Homo sapiens: one gene and its partners. The protein of the gene in region 3 purifies or fractionates together with the protein of the main gene of each other region. This does not show direct contact. Each region holds a gene or a part of one and is shown on either strand. Other genes may lie near its edges.

The links.
Region 1: the proteins of YARS2 (region 3) and FASTKD2 purify together in Homo sapiens (affinity purification with mass spectrometry; 2 studies listed by BioGRID and IntAct, with this or other methods). This does not show direct contact.
Region 2: the proteins of YARS2 (region 3) and DDX28 purify together in Homo sapiens (affinity purification with mass spectrometry; 2 studies listed by BioGRID and IntAct, with this or other methods). This does not show direct contact.

What each region holds. Positions count from the first base shown.
Region 1 is NC_000002.12:206,761,306-206,768,606, reverse strand, and holds the start of FASTKD2 (FAST kinase domain-containing protein 2, mitochondrial), read right to left. Parts: upstream 3,002-7,301; 5' UTR 2,860-3,001; exon of another isoform or gene 2,845-2,859; intron 1,964-2,844; 5' UTR 1,914-1,963; coding exon 1,137-1,913; intron 1-1,136. Other genes in the region: MDH1B (putative malate dehydrogenase 1B), read left to right, coding at 3,336-3,357. UniProt on the Homo sapiens protein: Plays an important role in assembly of the mitochondrial large ribosomal subunit.
Region 2 is NC_000016.10:68,020,415-68,027,917, reverse strand, and holds DDX28 (probable ATP-dependent RNA helicase DDX28), read left to right. Parts: upstream 1-4,685; 5' UTR 4,686-4,715; coding exon 4,716-6,338; 3' UTR 6,339-7,002; downstream 7,003-7,503. UniProt on the Homo sapiens protein: Plays an essential role in facilitating the proper assembly of the mitochondrial large ribosomal subunit and its helicase activity is essential for this function. May be involved in RNA processing or transport. Has RNA and Mg(2+)-dependent ATPase activity.
Region 3 is NC_000012.12:32,746,044-32,752,919, forward strand, and holds the end of YARS2 (tyrosine--tRNA ligase, mitochondrial precursor), read right to left. Parts: intron 4,832-6,876; coding exon 4,676-4,831; intron 4,065-4,675; coding exon 3,894-4,064; intron 1,321-3,893; coding exon 1,161-1,320; 3' UTR 501-1,160; downstream 1-500. UniProt on the Homo sapiens protein: Catalyzes the attachment of tyrosine to tRNA(Tyr) in a two-step reaction: tyrosine is first activated by ATP to form Tyr-AMP and then transferred to the acceptor end of tRNA(Tyr).

The DNA.
Region 1 (7,301 bases), on a different chromosome or scaffold from region 3:
CACCTCAGCCTCCCAAGTAGCTGGGACCACAGGCAAGTACATCACACCCAGCTAATTTTTGTATTTTTTGTAGAGATGGAGTCTCCCTTTGTTGCCCAGGCTGGTCGCAAACTCCTGGGCTCAAGAGATCCTCCTGCCTTGGCCTCCCAAAGTGCTGGGATTACAGGTGTGAGCCACCACACCTGGCTAAGAAATTACTTCATTATCACTGAGTTTATACGTCAGAAGTGTACACTCTTAAAACATAAATGATTAACAAGCTAATCCTTCCTTCCTTACATTTGGCACCATTTCAGTGACATTAAACAGGACACTGACATTCTTGCTTTAGACTAAAAATGGCTCCCTCCATCCAATTTTAACCTTCTTCCAATACATCTTCCACTCATTCAGTGATCTAAAATACAAATTTGAGCACGTCAACCCATTGCTTAAAATTCTTCAACGGATTCCCATTGCCTACAGGATAAATGCATACTCCTTAGCTAGCCGTAAGAGGCTCTTTATGATTTGGTTCCTATTTTTCTGGCCTCTTGTTCTGCCCCTAAGCCTCTTGCCCCTCACTCCTCTCCTTTGATCGCCATGTACAAAACTTGTTCCCACCCACTCAAACATACAACTCCATCATTCTGTGCTTCAGCTACACCAAACTACTTTCAGCTCTTCAAATTTGCCAAACTTTTCCTCTGGGAACAGTAGGGCATGCAATCCTCTCTACTTGAAACACCATCCCCTTCACTATCATTCTGCTCATCAGTTTAGGTATCATCTACTGGGCCTGAATTCCAATTCTACCATGGACTAAATTCTCTTCCTTCCCCTTCCCTTCTCTCCTTCTTCAACTACCCAGGCTTTCTTTGTATATCTTGCATCTCTCCTCACTTTAGCTTCTTCACCACTACTCAACCCTGGGGATGGTAAATGTGGAAGGCTTTCATAAATTTCCATAGCAAAAGGAAGAAAATAGCTAACTTAAGGCCTCTAAATCATATAATATATATGCAGAAATAAATATAAAGGAAACTACCATTCCATTTGATAGTCTCTTTTAAGAAGGCTACATATCTATATCCCTTCATTCTTTCAAAATATTCTAAATCAAGTAAATGCATGTTTAAATCTCCTTTTTATTTTACCTGGGTCACCCTCAGCAAAGTCTGCACCAAAATAGTGTTCTGAGGGATTCCAAGCTTCACTATGGCGTGAAGACTGAACAGTAGGTACTTATACTGCATGATCTTGGCTTCTCTCATCATATGTTCACAGAGCTGATTAAATGCAGGGTGGCTAAACATCAGTCGTTTTTCAAAGCGCTTCTGGTCATCAGACAGTCTTTTGGCAATTGTCCACATTGCTGTGAAATAGTTGCTACTAGGAAATGTGGGCGCTTTTGAAAATGCATCTAACACATCACTCAGGGAATTACATTCCTCAGACAGTTTTCTACTGCTGATACGGTTTGGTTTTGTTTCCTTGGTAAGAACATCTTCATTGGAGACTTCATGATTAAGGTTTACTTTCTTCAATTCATCATCAGATTTATCAACAGGGACAAGAGACTGCTTTGAGTCAAAAAACAGTCTTTTAGCATAAAGTAGTCTTTCAATTCTAAGGGCTGTTAGAGTGCTTATGCCCTTTGTTTGAAAGCCAACATCTGATTTAAAAATGAATGCATCCTGAAAGAGATATCTAATGATATCAGTTGATTGCATTCTGTTATGAAAGTTATTTAAAATGTTCCAGTTTGAATGAACTATTTTTGGTTTGCAAAGTCCCAAACAACATAGCCTCATAGTTCTGCTTGTTGAAACTAATGTACTGAATTGTCTAAGGTTCCAGAAAAAGGAGCCCGCTTTGTTATTCATTTTGCTCTCCACTGAAACACTTCCAAATGGCTTCAAAGTTGTCAACATGAAACCAACGTCACTTCTACTAGTGAAAAAGAACACGTGCTGTCGTTTTCCTGTAGGGGAAGAAGTAATGAAAAGAATAAAAATTAAAACAAAACTTTTACTTAAAGAAATGAAATGCATTTAACAGAAGAGAAAATGGGGAACCTATGGAGCCATTAAACATTTACATAAAACAGTAAAAGTTTTTTTTACCAATGTGGGCTCCCTCCAATCTACCACAATGTGTCCAGTTTCAAAGAAGCCAGGTCACTTTGGAAGTAGTCATTGTATTAATGAGATTTTTCTGGTGCAAAAGCGTTCCATAAAGCTTTCTCTGTAGGAGAGACTTTTGTTGGCATTGTTATGGAAATGTCCTCGGTGAAAATTAGGGGATTAGCATTGATAGATCATTTTCTTTTCTCTTCTCTGTTTTTTTTTTTTTTTTTTTTTTTTTTGAGACAAAGTCTTGCTATGTCCCCCAGGCTAGAGTGCAGTGGCGCGATCTTGGCTCACTGCAACCTCCACCTCCCAGGTTCAAGCAATTCTCCTGTCTCAGCCTCCCAAGTAGCTGGGATTACAGGCGTATGCCACCACGCCCGGCTAATTTTTGTATTTTTTGTAAAGACGGAGTTTCACCATGTTGGCCAGGCTGGTCCTGAACTCCTGACCTCAGGTAATCCACCCGCCTCGGCCTCCCAAGGCGTGAGTCACCGCGCCCGGCTGATAGATCATTTTCAACATGACGATTTAGCAACGGCCGAACCCAGACCATCAAGAATAGGGACCTGGGCAGGTAGAACGGCTCAGTGGAAGAAGCAGAAAACGAAAGCGATGTCTGCACGTGGCCTGCGCTTAAGAGGAAGATCTTATACAACCAGCCAGCCTCACCAGACCCCAGAACCAACTTCAAGAGCCTGTCCTTCCGCAGCTGGGCCGCCCAGCATTAACCCACCTCCTTTAAACTTACTTCCAGGACAACTCGTGAGACTCTTCTCCTCGAAGTAAAAAGTCTAGGATGTGATACGGGCTGCCGCTAAGCCCAAGCTCGTCCTCCACTCACCTTAGAGCACAAGACCGTGACTACGTACAGGAGCAGCCATGACAGCTTCCCCGAGAAGCTGCGCTTCTCACGAGATCTTACGGATTCCCTCAAAGGTCAAAAAGCATATGTTCGCGGCTGTAGCTGAAGGACTTACTTGAAGAAAGTTTACCAAGGAGAATGACTAATTTCCCTGCATACAGGAGTGGGGCTCGGGGATACCACAGAGCTTATAAGGGCGATGTTTGATCGTGTATCGCAACGTAACCCATTCAGGTCCTAACTTTAAACACCTAACCTCTGCTGGGCGCCAGACTTTGTAGTGCGCCTGCGCCTTGCCCTTGGCTGCGTGGTTGCCAGGAAACCGCGAAGCCGCGGTCCCTGCCTCTGAGTCTCTCTCGACCATGGCCAAATTCGTCATCGCGGGTGAGTGATCCCCGCGTCCGCCCGCAGATTGCTCAAAACGCCGACAACAGCTCACCTCCCATGGCCGCTCGGCTTGGCAGCCTCTATACGGACCGCTCCATGCTTTGCTATAGATTTATTCAAAGTTTTTTACTGGACCGTGACGGTGCGCCAAGCATTGTGGGACACTGGGGATGCAATGGAGGGAAACATATCCCTGCCTTAGAGGAGCTTTCAGTCTCATGGGGCACAGAACATGTACTTTTGATACGGTGTGATTAACGCGATGAAGGAGACCTGCACAGGCCTCTGGGAGCGTAGACTCCTAATCTGGGTTTGGGGGATGAGGGAGAGGTGGACACAAGGAACTGGCTGGGGAAGGTATTACAGGAGCTGAGTTGTGAAGGTGTGAGCTGAGGAGGCTATTCCAAATAAAAGCAGAGAGGCAGGAAGCTTCCTGGCCTAACAGAAGATCTGGATATGTGGGGCGTGACAGGACCTGGGGCTACAACAGGAGCAGGAGCCAGGTCCTTGCATTTCATGTAGGTCAAGCAAAGGTGTTTGAACTGTATCCTGAAAGCAATGAGGAATTATAGAAAAATTTTAAGCAGGAGAGTAGTCTTAATGAGTTTGCATTTTAGGAAGCCTGTCTTGGCAGCAACGGAGAGAATGATTGAAAGTGCTGGTTGACAGCAAGGACTCAACTGAGAAGGCTTTTATTACAACAATCCATGGTACCTACCTCCTCTCCTCGTAAAGTTTCTTAAAAGAGTAGACTGCTCTTCCATCTCCAGTTCTGCCTTCCAATCAGTCTTGGAAGAAGGCTTCTACTTCTGCTTCCTGACAGAAACTGCTGTCACCAAAGTCACCACTGACTTTTATAGAAGCTGTTTAGTCTTTGACTTATTTGATCTCTTTGATGCATTGAACACAATTGACATCTACCATCCACAGGAGATTTTTTTTTTTTTTTGAGACAGGCTCTCACTTTGTCACCCAGGCTGGATTGCAGTGGTGCAATCGTGGCTCACAGCAGCTTTGACCTCCTGGGCTCAAGCGATCCTCCCACCTCAGCCTCCCAAGTAGCTGGGACTACAGGCATACACCAGCATGCCCAGCTAATTTTTGTATTTTTGTAGAGATGGGGTTTTGTCATGTTGCCCACGCTGGTCTTGAACTCCTACGCTCAAGTGATTTGCCCACCTTGACCTCCCAAAGTGCCAAGATTACAGGCATGCACCACCACACCTGGCCCAGAAGAATATTTTTGAACACTGACTAACCACATGGTGGGAAGTCAGTGGAAAACACACAGAGAATGTTGCATGTATGACACTGACAGGGCAGGGTTCTATAGGAACGATAGCAGGGACCTTACTTAATCAGGTAAGGGTTTCCCAGAGGGAGAGATTTTAAGCAGATACCTGAAAGATGATAATGAATTACCTAACAGAGAAGAGGTAGAAAGGAGGGGAGCAATTTAGGCATGGGTAACTGGGAGTGGGGTTAGAGCAAGGAGAACTAGTTTGGTGACAATTGAGAATATAAAATAAGTATAAAATTGAAATAAGTTTATTAGGACTGAAGCAAATAGTACAAGGAAGAGAATTTCATAAGGTGAGGCTAGAGTTAGATAATGTAGATTCTTTTGAGCCACATTCAGTAGTTTAGACTTTATCCAGAGTACATGAAAGGTTTTTAGAAGGGGAGGAGGGCCTAATCAAATCTGAATTTTATCTGAATGTTACGGCTATAGTGTGGGACAAAAAGACTGGATACCAAGAAACCAGTTAGGAGACTAGTGCTATAGTCCAGGAGGGAGTTGATTGTGACCTGGCCTAGAGTGGCAAACAATGGAGATGGAGAGAAGTGAATGGATTGGAGAGATATTAGGGAGGCAGAATCTATAGAACTGGATGTCTAATTGACTGGAGGAGGGCAGATAAGGGAGAAAAAGGAGTTAAACATTGTTCCCAAGCAGAGGTTTGAATAATTGCAGAGATTAGGAGTCACTGAAAAAAAAAAAAAAGCGGATGAGTAGGTTTAATACTCTGGATACTCTTACTACTCTTAGATAATTAGGGAGATGGACATAATAAATATAAGCGACTAAGCACATTTAGTAGGGGAATGGTGACAAAATACATCATAGACCTTCTGAGTGTCTATGAGACATTTTGAAGGAGATGGGAAAATACAGGAGGGTGTAGGCATCTAGATAAGGAGATCTGAGCTGGAAATATAGATTGCTACTTGAAGCCAAGGGAATGAAGCAGATTGGCCAAAAAGAATATGTAAGTTATAAAGACAAGATGCTTCTCAGAATGATACCTTTTAATGGGTTGATAAAGGAATGGAAACCTACAAAGGATAGAAAGGAGTGACCATAGAATAGGAGAACTGGGAGAATGCCCCCACTATAGCAGTGTTTCAAAAGCCTGGAAGGGGGCAGTGGTGGCAAATGCTGCCAAGGGTCAACAAGAAAAGGATCGGAAAGTATCTGCTGGATTTAGTGGCATGGAAGTCTTCAGTGACCTTCAAGAGAATTGTGGGGTCTGCTACATTGCAGTGGGTGAGAAATAAATGGAAGTGAAGAACTGAGGATGGCAAATATAGGGAACTCTTTCAAGATATTTTGATCAAAAAGGACATACGAAAGGCAATAGCTAGAGGGGGAGATGAGTTTTTTGTCTCTTAGGACAGGAGAAACATAATGTAATGAGTATATTTAAATATGACAGAAAGGGACTATTAGAAACAGATACAAGACTCTAGAAAGAGAGGATAATTAACTAAGCAAGGTTCCTATGAAGGCAGATGAGGATGGGATTCAGAGCATAAGTGGTGGGATTAGATTAGACAGGAGGTAGGACTCCTCTTCCATTGAAATGAAGAAAGGAGGAAAGGATGAGTCCAAGTACAGACAGGCATGTAGATGTGATGGACGAGGTTGGAGATTTTCCAAACTAATGCCATTTTGTTTTGTTTGGGTTGGTTTTTGTAAAGTAAAAAGCAAAGTTGTCTGTTGTGTTCTGATAATGCAGAGGAATGTTGGGGAGAAGGAAAAGATTTGGAGGAAGAGGAAAAAGACTGGAATAGTAATGAGGAGAACAGAAGAGAGTGCTGATAAGGGAAACAGAGGGATCTCCACGCAGGGTTGAGGGCCAATTAAAGCTGGTGACCATGAATTTTAAAGGTGCCCTCCGCTTGGTTCTACAATGTTTCTGTAGTGGTGGCTAGCAGGTAGGACCCAGCTACAGAAAAGGCAAGTAATTGAGTTCATCCAGGATAAGGGGCTTTTATCAGGCTCATTTCCCAAAAGGATAGTGGAGAAAGATAATTTAAGACATGGACCAGAAAGTGGTTTGAAGAGATGAACCATAGATTTGAACTAGACAGGGTGGCTGATAGACAGGGGTAGCTTCAGACAGGTTGGTAACTTAGGAGTTAAGTTATCTTAACTGAGGAAGAATGCTACAGAGAGGGCTCTGCATTTTTCCCCATCCCTCCTGCTCTATCAGATGCCCAATTCCATCTGTTGTAGTGGCTTTAACTTCCTGGGTGTTGATGGCTACAAATTGTGTGTCTGAAACCCTTACATGGCACCTGCACCCCATATATATGTATACATATACATATACATGTACATATACATATACATATATATCCAGCTACTTGCTGATCATATCCACTTAGACACACTACAAGTATCTCCAACTGCACTTGACTAAAGTTAAATTTCTCATTCATGATTTTTCTCTAGTTAAGGTCAGCATCATCTGCCCAAGCCGGAAAATAGAAGTTATCCCAGATTCTTCTTTCCCACCCCCACAACTTCCTGACACACATCAAATCCAAAAGTGACTTTACCACCACTCCTCACTTCAAACTTTACCTTTTGGTGGCCATTAGTGAGTAGTTCATTATCAGTACTAATTCATGCTGAATTAGTAGTAGTTAGCAGC
Region 2 (7,503 bases), on a different chromosome or scaffold from region 3:
CTAGTTCCCCAGCCTGGCCTGCTCTCTCTCAGTATGGGATCTCTGAACAAGCTGTCCCTGCCCAGGGGCCACGTCCCTATTCTTCCACCTGGCTGACTCCCTGTAGACTTTTAGAACCTCATCACCTCCTCCTGGAAGCCTTCTCTGACCAACATCTCCCAAAACAGGGTAAAGGCATCTCTGAGCTCATTCCTGTCCTGGCATGGAGCTATCCTGGCAACTATTAATAGAAGAGCAACTATCTGTCAATATGCCTTCTTCACTGTAAGGTGAAAATAGGCACTGTGGCTTGTTCATCACCAGATCCTCATCAGAGAGCATACAATCTGGCATATGGTAGATGCTTAGTGTTTGCTGTAAAAAGAAGTTAATGGCAGCCGGGTGAGGTGGCTCACGCCTGTAATCCCAGCACTTTGGGAGGCCAAGGCAGGCGGATTACCTAAAGTCGGGAGTTTGAGACCAGACCAGCCTGACCAACATGGAGAAACCACGTCTCTACTAAAAATACAAAATTAGCCGGGTGTGGTGGCGCATGCCTGTAATCCCAGCTACTTGGGAGGCTGAGGCAAGAGAATCACTTGAACCCGGGAGGCGGAGGTCACAGTAAGCTGAGATCATGCCACTGCACTCTAGCCTGGGCAACAAGAGCAAAACTCCATCTCCAAAAAAAAAAAAAAACAAGAAGTTAATGGACCAAGTGCAACAAGAGCTATGATCCACTCCATGCTTCAGTCACAGAAGAACTCTATCCCAGCCAAAGTGCATTTAAAGTGCTTTGTTATCACTCAAGTTTGGTTTTAGAGGAGACGAATGACTACTCCAATCTCTGGCTTACCCAGTAAAGGACTACAAGCCCTTTGGCCAACTTGCATGGAGCCATCACTTGAGTGAACAAGATTCACATAAGAAAGCAACAGAAGAGGTTGAGCCCAATTCTGGATACTGATTAGGAAATAATCTGCAGGCAACAAGGATTCATGAATGGCTTTTGAGTCAAAGGGTAACATGGCCATAGCTGTGCTTTTTTTTTTTTTTTTTTTTTCAGATAGACTCTTGCTCTATCACCCAGTCTGGAATGCAATGGCACAATCTCAGGTCACTGCAACCTCCGCCTCCCGGGTTCAAGCAATTCTTCCACTTCAGCCTCCCGAGTAGCTGGGATTACAGGTGCCTGCCACCATGCTCAGCTAATTTTTGTATTTTTGTAAAGAAAGGGTTTCACCACGTTTGCCAGACTGGTCTTGAACTCCTGACCTCGTGATCTGCCCGCCTTGGCCTCTCAAAGTGCTGGGATTACAGGCGTGAGCCACCACACCAGGCCTAGCTGTGCTTTAATAACATCACTCGGGAAACAGAAGGTAGACCAGAGGGTAAAAAACAAAGAGCAGGTAGGGAGCTGGATGAGAAGGAAGGTCAAAGGGTCCAGGAATACTATAGTGATAATGACTGAAAATATGATTACCTGCGCACAGCCCTGCTACAGGTGGGAAAATGGAGGAACAATAAAGTAATACCAATAGCACTTTTTATTGCTGTAATGCTTTGCAATTCCCAAAGTGCTTCATTTATAACTGTGATTCTCAAGCCTAGTTACATCTGGAGAGGTTTCTAAAAATACCAATTTCTCGGCTGGGCACAATGGCTCACATCTGTAATCCCAGCACTTCGGGAGGCCAAGGCAGGCAGATCAACTGAGGTCAGGAGTTCGAGATCAGCCTGGTCAAAATGGCAAAACCTCATCTCTACTAAAAATACAGAAATTAGCCGGGTTTGGTAGCACGTGCCTGTAATCCCACCTACTGGGGTGGCTGAGGCAGAAGAATCACTTGAACCTGGGAGGCAGAGGTTACAGTGAGTCGAGATGGCACCACTGAAGTCTAGCCTGGGTGACAGAGCAAGACCTTGTCTAGGCCTTAACCCAAATCAATTAAATCAGAATGTAAACTCCACAAGGGCAGGGATTTTGGCTGTTTTCCTCACTACCAATGCCTGGCACATGCGTGGTGCTCAGGAAGTATTTGTTGAATGAATGATTGAATGAATGAATGAATATACCATTATTAACTGAGATCCAAGGAACACACCAAGCTCCTGATCTCAGGAGCTTAGATTTTTTTTCACAATAAGGATACCTTTCCTATTTCTAAAGCACTACTTATAAAAATATCTCAGAAAACATTTAGAAGTTAATCAATGTCCTCTGTGAGTGAGGGGGAAAAAAGGTAGGCAGTGTCTAGTGATGTGACAAGAAGAAATTAGTGGCCACGGACACAGACAGGCTTAGGCAAGCTCTAACTCCTGTGAAATTTTGAGGTAATCATATTGTAAGGACTCAAGCATAATGAGAAAACAACTATATATTAACCAGCTACCCTACCCTGGATATTTGAACAAAACCCAAAAACCCAAATGCATATACATACCTATTATTTTGTTCTGATACTTCAGGATTACTTTGATATATGTGTTCTGGCTTTGTACAGAGTAATTCTTTGTTTGATATCTGAAAAACAGTGGCACATGGAAATGGATGAAACCTGTTGGGACAAACATCCAAGGGACCTTTTTTTTTTTTTTTTGAGACAGAGTCTCGCCCTGTCGCCCAGGCTGGAGTGCAATGGTGCGATCTCGGCTCACTGCAACAACCTCCGCCTCCCGGGTTCAAACGATTATCCTGCCTCAGCCTCCCGAGTAGCTGGGATTACAGGCATGAGCCTGGCCCCAAGGAACTATTTGGATAAGGAGAAGCCCTGAGTTTGGAAAGAATCATAAAAGTAGCATAGAATTGGGCCGGGCACAGCGGCTCACACCTGTAATCTCAGCACTTTGGGAGACCAAGGTGGGCAAATCATGAGGTCAGGAGTTTGAGACCAGCCTGCCCAACGTAGTGAAACCCTGTCTCTATTAAAAATACAAAAATTAGCTGGGAGTGGTAGCGCACACCTCTAATCCCAGCTACTCAGATGGCTGATGCAGGAGAATCCCTTGAACCCAGAAGGCAGAGACTGCAGTGAGCTGACATCGCACCACTGTACTCCAGCCTGGGCAACACAGTGAGACTGTCTATAAAAAAAAAAAAAAAAAAAGTATCCAGCCATTGTCAAATATGGTGGGAGGGAAAGGGCAAAATCACCCTTGTTTTAGAACCACTACCCTATCCAATGACTGTTCATTCACCCATCACTACTCAAAACTTTCTCTTCCTACTTCCAGATATTTTCTTGTGGAGAAAAAAAGCCTCTCTTCCTCTGATTTATCTGGTAACTCTCCAGAAAGTCTAATTGTGTAGCACAAGGGTAGAGTGTACTTAAAATTGTGAAAGTTTTTCCTCATACTATTCCAAAAAAAGCAAAGTTTTTATCTTTTCATTGGTATTTGATGAAACTAAAACGTTTTCTCCAGATGTTACGAACCTCCCAGAGAGTTAATCCATAAATATTTACCTTATCTCCCACCCCAGGCACTGCAAATTACAGAAAAGATCTGACACCCATTTTCCAGATCTGTTCAAGAAGTATCTGTTGGGCATGGTGGCTCACGCTTATAATCCCATCACTTTGGGAGGCCGAGGTGGGAAGATCGCTTGAGGCCAGGAGTTCGAGACCAGCCAGGCCTACATAGTGAAACCCTGTCTCTACTAAAAACAGAAAAAATTAGCCGGGCGTGGGTGGTGTACGGCTGTAGTCTCAGCTACTTGGGAGGCAGAGGCAGGAGAATCACCTGAACCCAGGAGGTGGAGGTTGCAGTGAGCCGAGATTGCGCCACTGCACTCCAGCCTGGGTGACAGAACGAGACTGTGTCTCAGAAAAAAAAAAAAAAAAAGTGACTCGTATAGTTCTTGTTTTTACAACCCGAATATCTGAATTCAGGTAAAATATTCTGCCTGACCAGGGCTACATGATAAGCCACGTACTTGATCACTTTGTAGGGTCGCAGCACCCTTCTTACTACTATTTTAGGTAATTCAGGTTTCTGACGGGGAAGCCAGTGGAGCTGAGCGGGCTGCAAGAGGGGTGGGTTCTGGATGAGAAGTTGGGACGCGTGACGAGGGAGTAGAGAGTGAACCTTGGCTTAAAAGGAAGGAAAATAACTGTGAAGAAAAGATGACCCAACTTGAAATAAAACCTGAAGACCTTATCTCCCACTTGAGAGAGAGAAGAAGCTGAAAGCCATCAGCTTGCACTCTGGGCTCACAGACAGAGAGGGTGAGGGGTTGAGCCCAGATCTATGACTTCAGACCCCTGTCTCGGCCCCTAGGCCTGATCATTCATTCAAACTCTCAATAAACACGGATTACCAGACCCTGCGCAGGGAACACATCTGGGAAAACAGCTGCAACCTCGGATACCAGCACGGGACAAGCTATCTCAGGGCAATGAGGAACAACTAAAGAGAATCCCAGGAACCAGGTAACCAATCGCCAGAAGCCCTCCGCCCTCATGGTCCATTGGGTCAAGGCCCCACTGCCGCCTCGTATCGCCAGCCTCCAGTCCTGCCTCCACGACGCGCCCTTCCCCAAGGCTGGCCGGGTCTGGATGTCGCCATCCCCTATTCGGAGCTACAGACCTCGCAGCTGAACTCTTAAAAAGAACCTCGCTTCTTCCTCACGGTGCTCCAGCTCCACACACCGTACTGAGCCTCGCCAGCCACCGTACGCGAGGTCGCGGCGCGTCCGTGACGTCACTGATGTGCGCTTCTCCCGCACTAAGGGAAACATGGCTCTAACGCGGCCGGTGCGGCTCTTTTCCCTCGTGACTCGGTTGCTCCTGGCGCCGCGACGGGGCCTCACGGTCCGCAGTCCCGACGAACCCCTGCCGGTGGTGCGCATCCCAGTGGCTCTACAGCGGCAGTTGGAACAGCGGCAGAGCAGGCGGCGGAACCTCCCGAGGCCGGTGCTGGTTCGACCCGGACCGCTGCTGGTTTCGGCGCGGCGGCCGGAGTTGAACCAGCCGGCGCGCCTCACACTGGGCCGTTGGGAGCGCGCGCCGCTAGCCTCTCAAGGCTGGAAGAGTCGACGCGCGCGTCGGGACCACTTCTCCATCGAGCGCGCGCAACAGGAGGCGCCAGCGGTGCGAAAGCTCTCGTCTAAGGGCAGCTTTGCTGACCTGGGCCTGGAGCCCCGTGTGCTGCACGCACTACAGGAGGCTGCGCCTGAAGTCGTTCAGCCCACAACCGTGCAGTCTAGCACCATCCCCTCACTACTTCGCGGCCGCCATGTCGTTTGCGCCGCAGAAACCGGCAGTGGCAAGACTCTCAGCTACCTCCTGCCGCTGCTTCAACGGCTCTTGGGCCAGCCAAGCCTGGACTCCCTTCCTATCCCCGCGCCCCGAGGCCTGGTCCTTGTTCCTTCCCGAGAATTGGCCCAACAGGTGCGGGCTGTGGCCCAACCCTTGGGCCGCTCCTTGGGCCTGCTGGTGCGGGACCTGGAGGGAGGCCACGGCATGCGTAGGATCAGGCTGCAGCTGTCCAGACAGCCTTCAGCAGATGTGCTTGTGGCCACTCCAGGGGCTCTGTGGAAGGCCCTGAAAAGTCGACTGATCAGTCTGGAGCAACTCTCCTTCTTGGTGTTGGATGAGGCAGACACACTGCTGGATGAAAGCTTCCTGGAACTGGTGGACTACATCTTAGAGAAGAGCCACATAGCAGAAGGCCCAGCTGACTTGGAAGACCCCTTCAATCCCAAAGCTCAGTTAGTGCTGGTAGGAGCCACATTTCCCGAAGGTGTAGGCCAGTTGCTGAATAAAGTCGCCAGCCCAGATGCTGTCACCACCATCACCAGCTCCAAGCTCCACTGTATCATGCCTCATGTGAAACAGACATTTCTGAGACTGAAGGGAGCAGATAAGGTGGCCGAGCTGGTGCACATCCTCAAGCATCGTGACAGAGCAGAAAGGACTGGTCCCTCAGGAACTGTTCTGGTGTTCTGTAATAGCTCCAGCACTGTGAACTGGCTGGGATATATTCTGGATGACCACAAAATCCAACACCTAAGGTTGCAGGGGCAAATGCCAGCCTTGATGAGGGTAGGAATCTTCCAGTCCTTCCAGAAGAGCTCCCGAGACATACTTCTCTGCACAGACATAGCCTCTCGGGGCCTGGACAGCACTGGTGTGGAGCTGGTTGTCAATTATGATTTCCCCCCAACGCTGCAAGATTACATCCACAGAGCAGGGAGAGTGGGCCGTGTGGGGAGCGAGGTGCCAGGCACCGTCATCAGTTTTGTGACCCATCCCTGGGATGTGAGCCTGGTTCAGAAGATTGAGCTGGCGGCTCGCCGAAGGAGAAGTCTTCCAGGACTAGCATCCTCGGTGAAAGAGCCTTTGCCCCAAGCAACCTGATTTTGACAAATCTGATTAAAATGTGATGCTAGAACAGGGATCTTTCCCAGTATCTTGAGTGGGTGACCACACTTGTCAGTGGGAGGCTCTGGGCTGCCCTGTCGGCTCCTTGAGGGCGGGATGAACTGCTTTGTGACTTGGAAAGGTACGCTGCTGGCCAGCATTGGAGAAGAAGCTGCTGAGCATGGCTTTCTGTAGTCTTTAGCAAGACACAAGTGGATTTTGACTTTGTATCATGTCATGATTTCTAACAATAAATGATGTTTTTATGTGCCTCCCCTAAGAATAATTAGCACCGGGGCGGAATTCAGTAGTTTCTGAGGATTCATACACCAAACCTCCACATCTAGGACAAAGGCTCTTTCAGTTGATGTTTTCATTTATAAACATTTAGTTTGTATTTCCTGCCCCCAAAAAGGTATCCATTAAGCCCCCAGGGAAAGGAAAGGAAAGGAAATGTGACTAGCAGTAGACAGAGTTACTCTCTAACAATGCCCAAGACAAACGGGCGTCTTGGCGAAATCTCTGGAAGGTACTGGCAGAAAAGTAAAGGGTAGACGAACACAGAAGTTTTGCTTGTACATTTTCAGGTTCTGCCTTCTATCCCAACTCGGTAGCCGAGAAAGAGGAGAGATGATTAAACGGTTTTACAAAACTGGAAAAATAACCATATAGCATTTTCTTTATATATATATATACGTATATATATATATATATATATATATATACATACGTATATATATATATACACATACATATATATACGTATATATATATATGTATATATATATATACGTGTATATATATATACGTGTATATATATATGTGTATATATATATATACACAAAAAAAAATTACAAAAATCAACCCGGCGTGGTGGCACGCGCCTGTAGTCCCAGCTACTCGGGAGGCTGAGGCAGGAGAATCACTTGAACCTGGGAGGCGGAGGTTGCAGTGAGCCAAGATCATACCACTACACTCCAGCCTAGGGGACAGAGCAAGACTCCATCTCAAAAAAAAAAAAAAAAAAAAGCCGGGTGTGGTGGCTCACGCCTGTAATGCCAGCACTTTGGGAGGCTGAGGCAGGAGGATCACCTGAGGTCAGGAGTTTAAGACCAGCCTGGTAAACATGCGAAACCCCATCTCTATTAAAAATACAAAAAAA
Region 3 (6,876 bases):
ATTGGCTTTATTTTTGGGGGGTTAACTTTTTAATTTACCTCAAGTTGCAATCTGCTTGGGGGGAAAAGCTGAAACTTAAAACCAATTTAAGTTTCTAAATTTATAAAACATTGCTACCTTAGGAATCCACTGACAACAAGGCTTAATGTGAACAGAATTATACTGGAACACAGGCAAGGAACCAGAAAACTGAATTAGAAACTTTCTGAAAAGTCACGTACTGATTTTTGTACTATTATTTGTAAAGAAACTACTTACTGTAATTTCTCAAAGCAACCATGGCCTCATCTAACTTTTTCTCCTTTTTAAGAACTACATTTGCTCTCTGAACTACAAAAAAATCAAATTTCTATTCAAAGTTTCTAATACTAGTTTTCCCATTTCTAATGTGGACACTAGAGGCCCTGATGATTTTATAAACAACTATATAACATTAGTGACATCGGTGCTCCATACCTGATAGAAAAGCAGCTACAATTCCTTTTTTTTTTTTTTTTTTTTGAGACAGAGTTTCACTCACTACTCATGCTGTCTCCCAGGCTGGAGTGCAGTGGCGTGATCTCAGCTCACTGCAACCTCCATCTCCTGGGTTCAAGTGATTCTCGCAGCTCAGCCTCTTGAGTAGCTGGGGTTACAGGTGCCTGCAACCACATCTGGCTAATTTTTATATTTTCAGTAGAGACGGGGTTTCGCCCTGTTGGCCAGGCTGGTCTCAAACTCCTGGCCTCAAGCGATTTGCCCACCTTGGCCTCCCGAAGTGCTGGGATTACAGGTGTGAGCCACCATGCCCAGCCTCACAATTCCTTACACTACCTCTTTTTCATTGTTCCTCATCACTACAAAAAGGAGAGCAGGAAGGGTAAGATAGGAAAGCAGCATTTCTTTCTCTTCTGAAGTATAATTTTAAAAAGAGATTAACCCTGAAAATCATGGTTTTCTATGGTAATCAAGCTTTGTACATCAGAAAATAAAACATCCCATTATTAAACAAATATTTATTAACCGGCCCATAAAAATAATGAAGTTACTCACACTGAGTCCTAGTCCATTCTGTTTTTCTGATTTGCATAAGCAAAGGTCTAAGTTCTGGAGCCAACCCTTCAGAGGTCTTGAGAATGAATGATGGGTAAGTTTATTTGGACAACCAGAAGGACTTTTCATCACAACTGAAGCCATTTTATAATGTAGAAATTTCTTTTTCCTATTTTAAGTAAGGAAAGTCCATTCTTGAGAATATGTTGTCCAACAATTAAAACACTCTCAGGATTTGTTACTTGTTGGTGATTTATGCTGACTCCGCCTTCTGTTATCATTCGATACCTAAAAAATAGAAACGTTTAGTAAGTAGAGAGATCCAATCACTGTTGATCTGTCCCCCAAAAAAGACTGTTTCACTTAGATTTCAGAGGCTCTCCAATTGAGAAGATTTCATTTGGCACTGGACTGTTACCTTCATGTTTGCTCTATTATTAATAGATTCTGCCTCTCTTTACTGCTCTTTGTTTTTTGTTGTTTGTTTTTGAAACACATTCTTGCTCTGTAGCCCAGGCTGGCATGATCTCAGCTCACTGCAACCTCCGCCTCCTGTGTTCTAAGTGATTCTCCTGCCTCAGCCTCCAGAGTAGCTGCGATTACAGGTGCATGCCACCACACCTGGCTAATTTTGTATTTTTAGTAGAGATGGGTTTCGCCATGTTAGCCAGGCTGGTCTCAAACTCCCAACCTCAAGTGATCCACCTGCCTTGGCCTCCCAAAGTGCTGGGATTACAGGTGTGAACCACTGTGTCTGGCCGGAATTTACGCCTTGCAATCTGCTCTTTTAAAGACTCCGTCTCAAGAAAAAAAAAGAAAGACCTAGGAGAAGTTGTTCTAGGAGCACACTGGGTAGGTGAGGGCTGAACATTTCACTGAAAAAAGAGATACTTAAACTGGGAGTGAAGCTACCTTGACAATCAGGGCAGGAAACATGGGAGCAGCTAGAAAGAGGTGAGATCTGAGAAGACAGGGCTACAGCGTGGCTAGATCTTGGAAGTCCTTAAGAAAGAAAAATGGTGGTTTTCTCTCATCTGAATGTTACCAAATAAAATTAAGAAACCACTACTGGACATGGTTTTAAAGATATTTTTATACCTTTATTTTTGGGTAGAGACGGAGTCTCACTACGTCCTTGCCCACACAGATCTTGAACTCCTGGCCCCAAGCAATCCTCCCGCCCTCAGCCTCCCGAAGTGCTGGGATTACAAATGTGAGCCACCATACCTGGCCATGGACATGGTTTTATAAAACTCATCAGTAAAATATTTTCTACTTAAGGCCAGATTCCTTTCTTTTAGGAAGTATTATTTTACGCTGTCTGCTAGTTTCCAGATCATGTTCTATGTTTAATTTAAATGCACCAAACCTATTTAGCTTATATAATATTAAAAAAAAAAATCAGTATTACTTAGAGCCCTGGCTAAATCAGATGTGGTGTCATTTTTAGTAGTGGTAAAGCTTCCAGTATTAGCGAACACACTATAGTAAAGTTCAGAAGAAAACGAAATCTGCTTCCATAGTGAGGAAAATTATTTGTCTCGCTGACATACTACAGGGAAGTATATGACACCAGCCTCAAATTCACTGTGTGTTAAACCAGCAGATGAGGGAATCACTAAGGTGGAGTGGCAGGTGATGCAAAGGGAGACAATGGGTGCTTTTTCCAGGCAGAATAGTCTAGGACTCTTTAGGACACAGGCAAACAATCCAAGACAGTTGAAAGAGAACAACTATAACAAATGTCATTCATAATCATGGCCATGATATGGCCGATAACCATTTGACTTCTGTGTGAACTCCTGCAAAAGAGGCACCTGGGGGTCTTCTGGCTACCCAACACTTTTCCTTCCACCTCACTGTTCATTTAAAAATGGATAAGCATCAATTATATGCTGAATTATTTTTTGTGAAAAACCTTATTTACTCCTTAATACCTCATAACTGATTAATTAAAATATTCTACTCAATTCCTGAATAGAAAATGCAATTCTCAAGGGGATTATTATATAGTTTACAATAATAGTCTTATGACGTTAGTAGGTTAGTGCAAAAGTACTTGCGGTTTTGGCCATTATATGCTCATTTCATTTTCAGAAATTCAGTTAATACTATAGATAGGTTAGGTAACCTTTCCCATCCCCGAATATAAAAAGGATACAGACTATGAGAGGGGCTGTGTTAATCTGTTACATAGGGCCTCTGTTTCTGCATCCCTCTAAAACTGTGACCATATCCCTAAGCCGTACACTGATGCCAGTGTATTTACTGAACATGTCCCTCAAATGCACTTTTCCAGTGTTGGAGGAAAGACTGACTGGGTTAGATATAATAAGAGACAGTATAGGAGTACTGTACTATTATAGAAAATATAAAGTATTTTCAACAATAAGTACTCTCAGGCTATACTTTATTCTTGGACTAAACTAACTTTTCTAAGGAAGAGATGCCACTAAAGCACTATCAGGAAAACATCCTCTCTGGAAACACATGCTGTGAACTGTAACATTTTATTTATTTTTTGAGACAGAGTCTTGCTCTGTCACCCAGGCTGGAGTGCAGTGGTGGGATCTCCGCTCACTGCAAGCTCTGCCTCCCGGGTTGATGCCATTCTCCTGCCTCAGCCTCCCAAGTAGCTGGGACTACAGGCGCCTGCCACCATGCCCGGCTAATTTGTATTTTTAGTAGAGACAGGGTTTCACCGTGTTAGCCAGGATGGTCTCGATCTCCTGACCTCGTGATCTGCCCGCCTCGGCCTCCCAATGTGCTGTGATTACAGGCATGAGCCACTTCTCCTGGCCTTGTGAACTGTAACATTTAATGGTGAATTAACTGTAAATCTAAAAGTTAAATAATCTTACCCTCGGGGACCATCTGGAATGGCATTTGCTTTGCGGCAAGTATCTAGGACACTTGTTCCAGGATCGAGAAAAAATTCAGAAAATGGAGCTTCTTTAAACAACTCTTTTAACTCCTGATCAGACATGACCTCCAGTGCATCTATGCTACTGTGATAAAGGGCTTGTGTACACCTGAAAAACACATTTTAAGAGCTACATCATATAAATGTTTATTCAAATACATGTTCTAATACCCATTAACCAATTATAGAGTGTCCAAGTTCTAGACTAAAAGTTTTTTTTTGAGATGGAGTCTCGCTCTGTTGCCCCGGCTGGATTGCAATGGCATGATCTCGGCTCACAGCAACCTCTGCCTCCCGGGTTCAGGCGATTCTCCTGCCTCAGCCTCCTGAGTAGCTGGGATTACAGACGTGTGCCACCACGCCCAGCTAAGTTTTGTATTTTTAGTAGAGATGGGGGTTTCACCATGTTGGTCAGGCTGGTCTCGAACTCCTGACCTCGTGATCAGCCCACCTTGGCCTCCCAAAGTGCTGGGATTACAGGCGTGAGCCACCGCGCCCGGCATAGACTAAAAGTTTTTTAAACATCTATCTGGTATAATTCATAAACTTAATTCAAGATAATCCTTCTTTCCAATAAACAGGGGCTATTTTAAATTGCTAAGTCAAATACTGACAGTCCTTGTGATAAATGACAAGATAATCCTAAAACATACTCCTACTTTTCTCATGTCTATCCACTGAATAACTAACTATCAAGTGTTAATCATACTAAACTACTACCTTTTAGCAGAATCCAATCCTTCTCGTCCATGAACAAGCTTTGTTACTTCTGCTGCCAGTCGTTTCTGAGGACCCCGCCTTTCTGGCTCTTTGACATGCAGCTGCATGATATGATCAATCTCTGGAAGGGGCAGGAAAGTGAACAGCTTCAGGTACCTTTGAGACAAAAAATAAAGAGTTACACTTATATAACATACCTAATTTTTATCTCCAGCTCTTCTACCCTTTAAGGTTATCCTGCTTACTTTTAAATATGAAACAAACATACAGAAATGTACTGAACATAGTAGGTCCCATGCACACATCACCCAGATTTAAGGTGTTACTATTTTGGCATCTTTGTTTTCAATTTCTTTTTTTTTTTTTTGAGATGGGGGTCTTGCTGTTGCCCAGGCTGGAGTGCAGTGGCATGATCATGGCTCACTGTAACCTCAACCTCCTGGGCTCAAGCAATTCTACCACCTCTGCCTCCCAAGCAGCCGGGACCACAGGCTTGTGCCACCACGCCTGGCTAATTTTTATATTTTTTTTGTAAAGACGGGGTCTCCTGTGTTGCCCAGGCTGGTCTCAAACTCCTGGGCTCAAGTGATCCTCTTGTCTCAGCCTCCCAAAGTGTTGGGATTATGGGCAGGAGCCACCAAGCCCAGCCTCGTATTTTCTTTTTAAAAGGAACAAAATAGGCATAGATGAAGGCCGCAGTCCAATCACATTCCCTTCCTTGCCCCGAGATAATCATAAATCTAAGTTTATGTGCTGCCATCTTTCCCAAGCATGTTTTTATACTTTCATGTGCATGTGGCCATAAAAAAAAAGTACTGTGTAATTTTAAAAACTGATATAAATCATCATGCTCTGCATAATGATGTTTCTGTCAATGATGGACTACATATATCCGCGGTCCCCAACCTTTTTGGCACCACGAGGCGGCGGGGAGGGGAGGTGGTTTCAGAATGAAACTGTTCCACTTCAGATCATCAGGCATTTGTTGGATCCTCAAAAGGAATGCGCAACCTAGATCTCTTGCATGCGCAGTTCACAATAGGGTTTGTGCTCCTATGAGAATCTAATGCAACCGTGGATCTGACAGGAGATGGAGCCCAGGTGTAATGCTCGCTCGCCTGCCACTCAGCTCCTGTTGCGCAGCCCTGTTCCTAACAGGCCACGGACTGGTACAGTCCAACAGTGGTTCATAACATTATAATACCATAGTTTACTGTACTTTTTCTATGTTTACGTATACAAATACTTACCCTCGCGTTATCACTGCCTTCAGTATTTAGTACAGTAATGTGCTGTATGTGCTTCTACCCTGGGAGCAACAGGGTACACTGTATAGCCTAAGTGTGTAGTAGGCTATGCTATCTATGTTTGTGCAGGGACACTCTACGATATTTGCAATGATGAAATCACCTAACAACACACTTCCCAGAATGTATCCCTATTGTTAAGTGATATATGACTATAATATCATCCTATATGTATTCTCTTTTTCTTTGGTGAAATATATATAACACACAGAAAAAAGTACATTATTCACAAAGATATAGCTTAATGAATCATAAAACATCTATGTAACCATCACCATGGTCAAGAAATACAGTATTGGGCCGGGCGCAGTGGCTCACGTCTGTAATCAAATAGTGAGTTTGGCAGAGTTGCTAGATTTAAAGGTAATATATATAAAGTAATTGTATTTCTATACACCAGAACCAGATAGAAAATGCAATTTTTGAAAAGATTATCTAAATTCTCTAGGCCGGGTGCGGTAGCTCAAGCCTGTAATCCCAGCACTTTGGGAGGCTGAGGAAGGTGGATCACTTGAGGTCAGGAGTTCGAGACCAGCCTGGCCAACATGGCGAAACCCTGCCTCTACAAAAATACAAAAATTAGCTGGGCATGGTGGCGCATGCCTGTAGTCCTAGCTACTCAGGAGAATCACTTGAACCCAGGAGGCGGAGGTTGCAATGAGCCAAGATCATGCCACTACACTCTAGCCTGGGCAACAAAGTGAGACACTGCCTCAAAAAAAAAAAAAAAAAAAAAAAAAGATTATCAATTCTCAATACATCAAAACCCCAGGACTATATCGTCAAACATTCTAGGACTAAATCTAAAGAGAAAAAAACACAATTACCAAAATTTTGTAATAAGGCATGATAATCTTCCACTCTGTTCTTCAAAAACATCTTGGCCAATCTTAG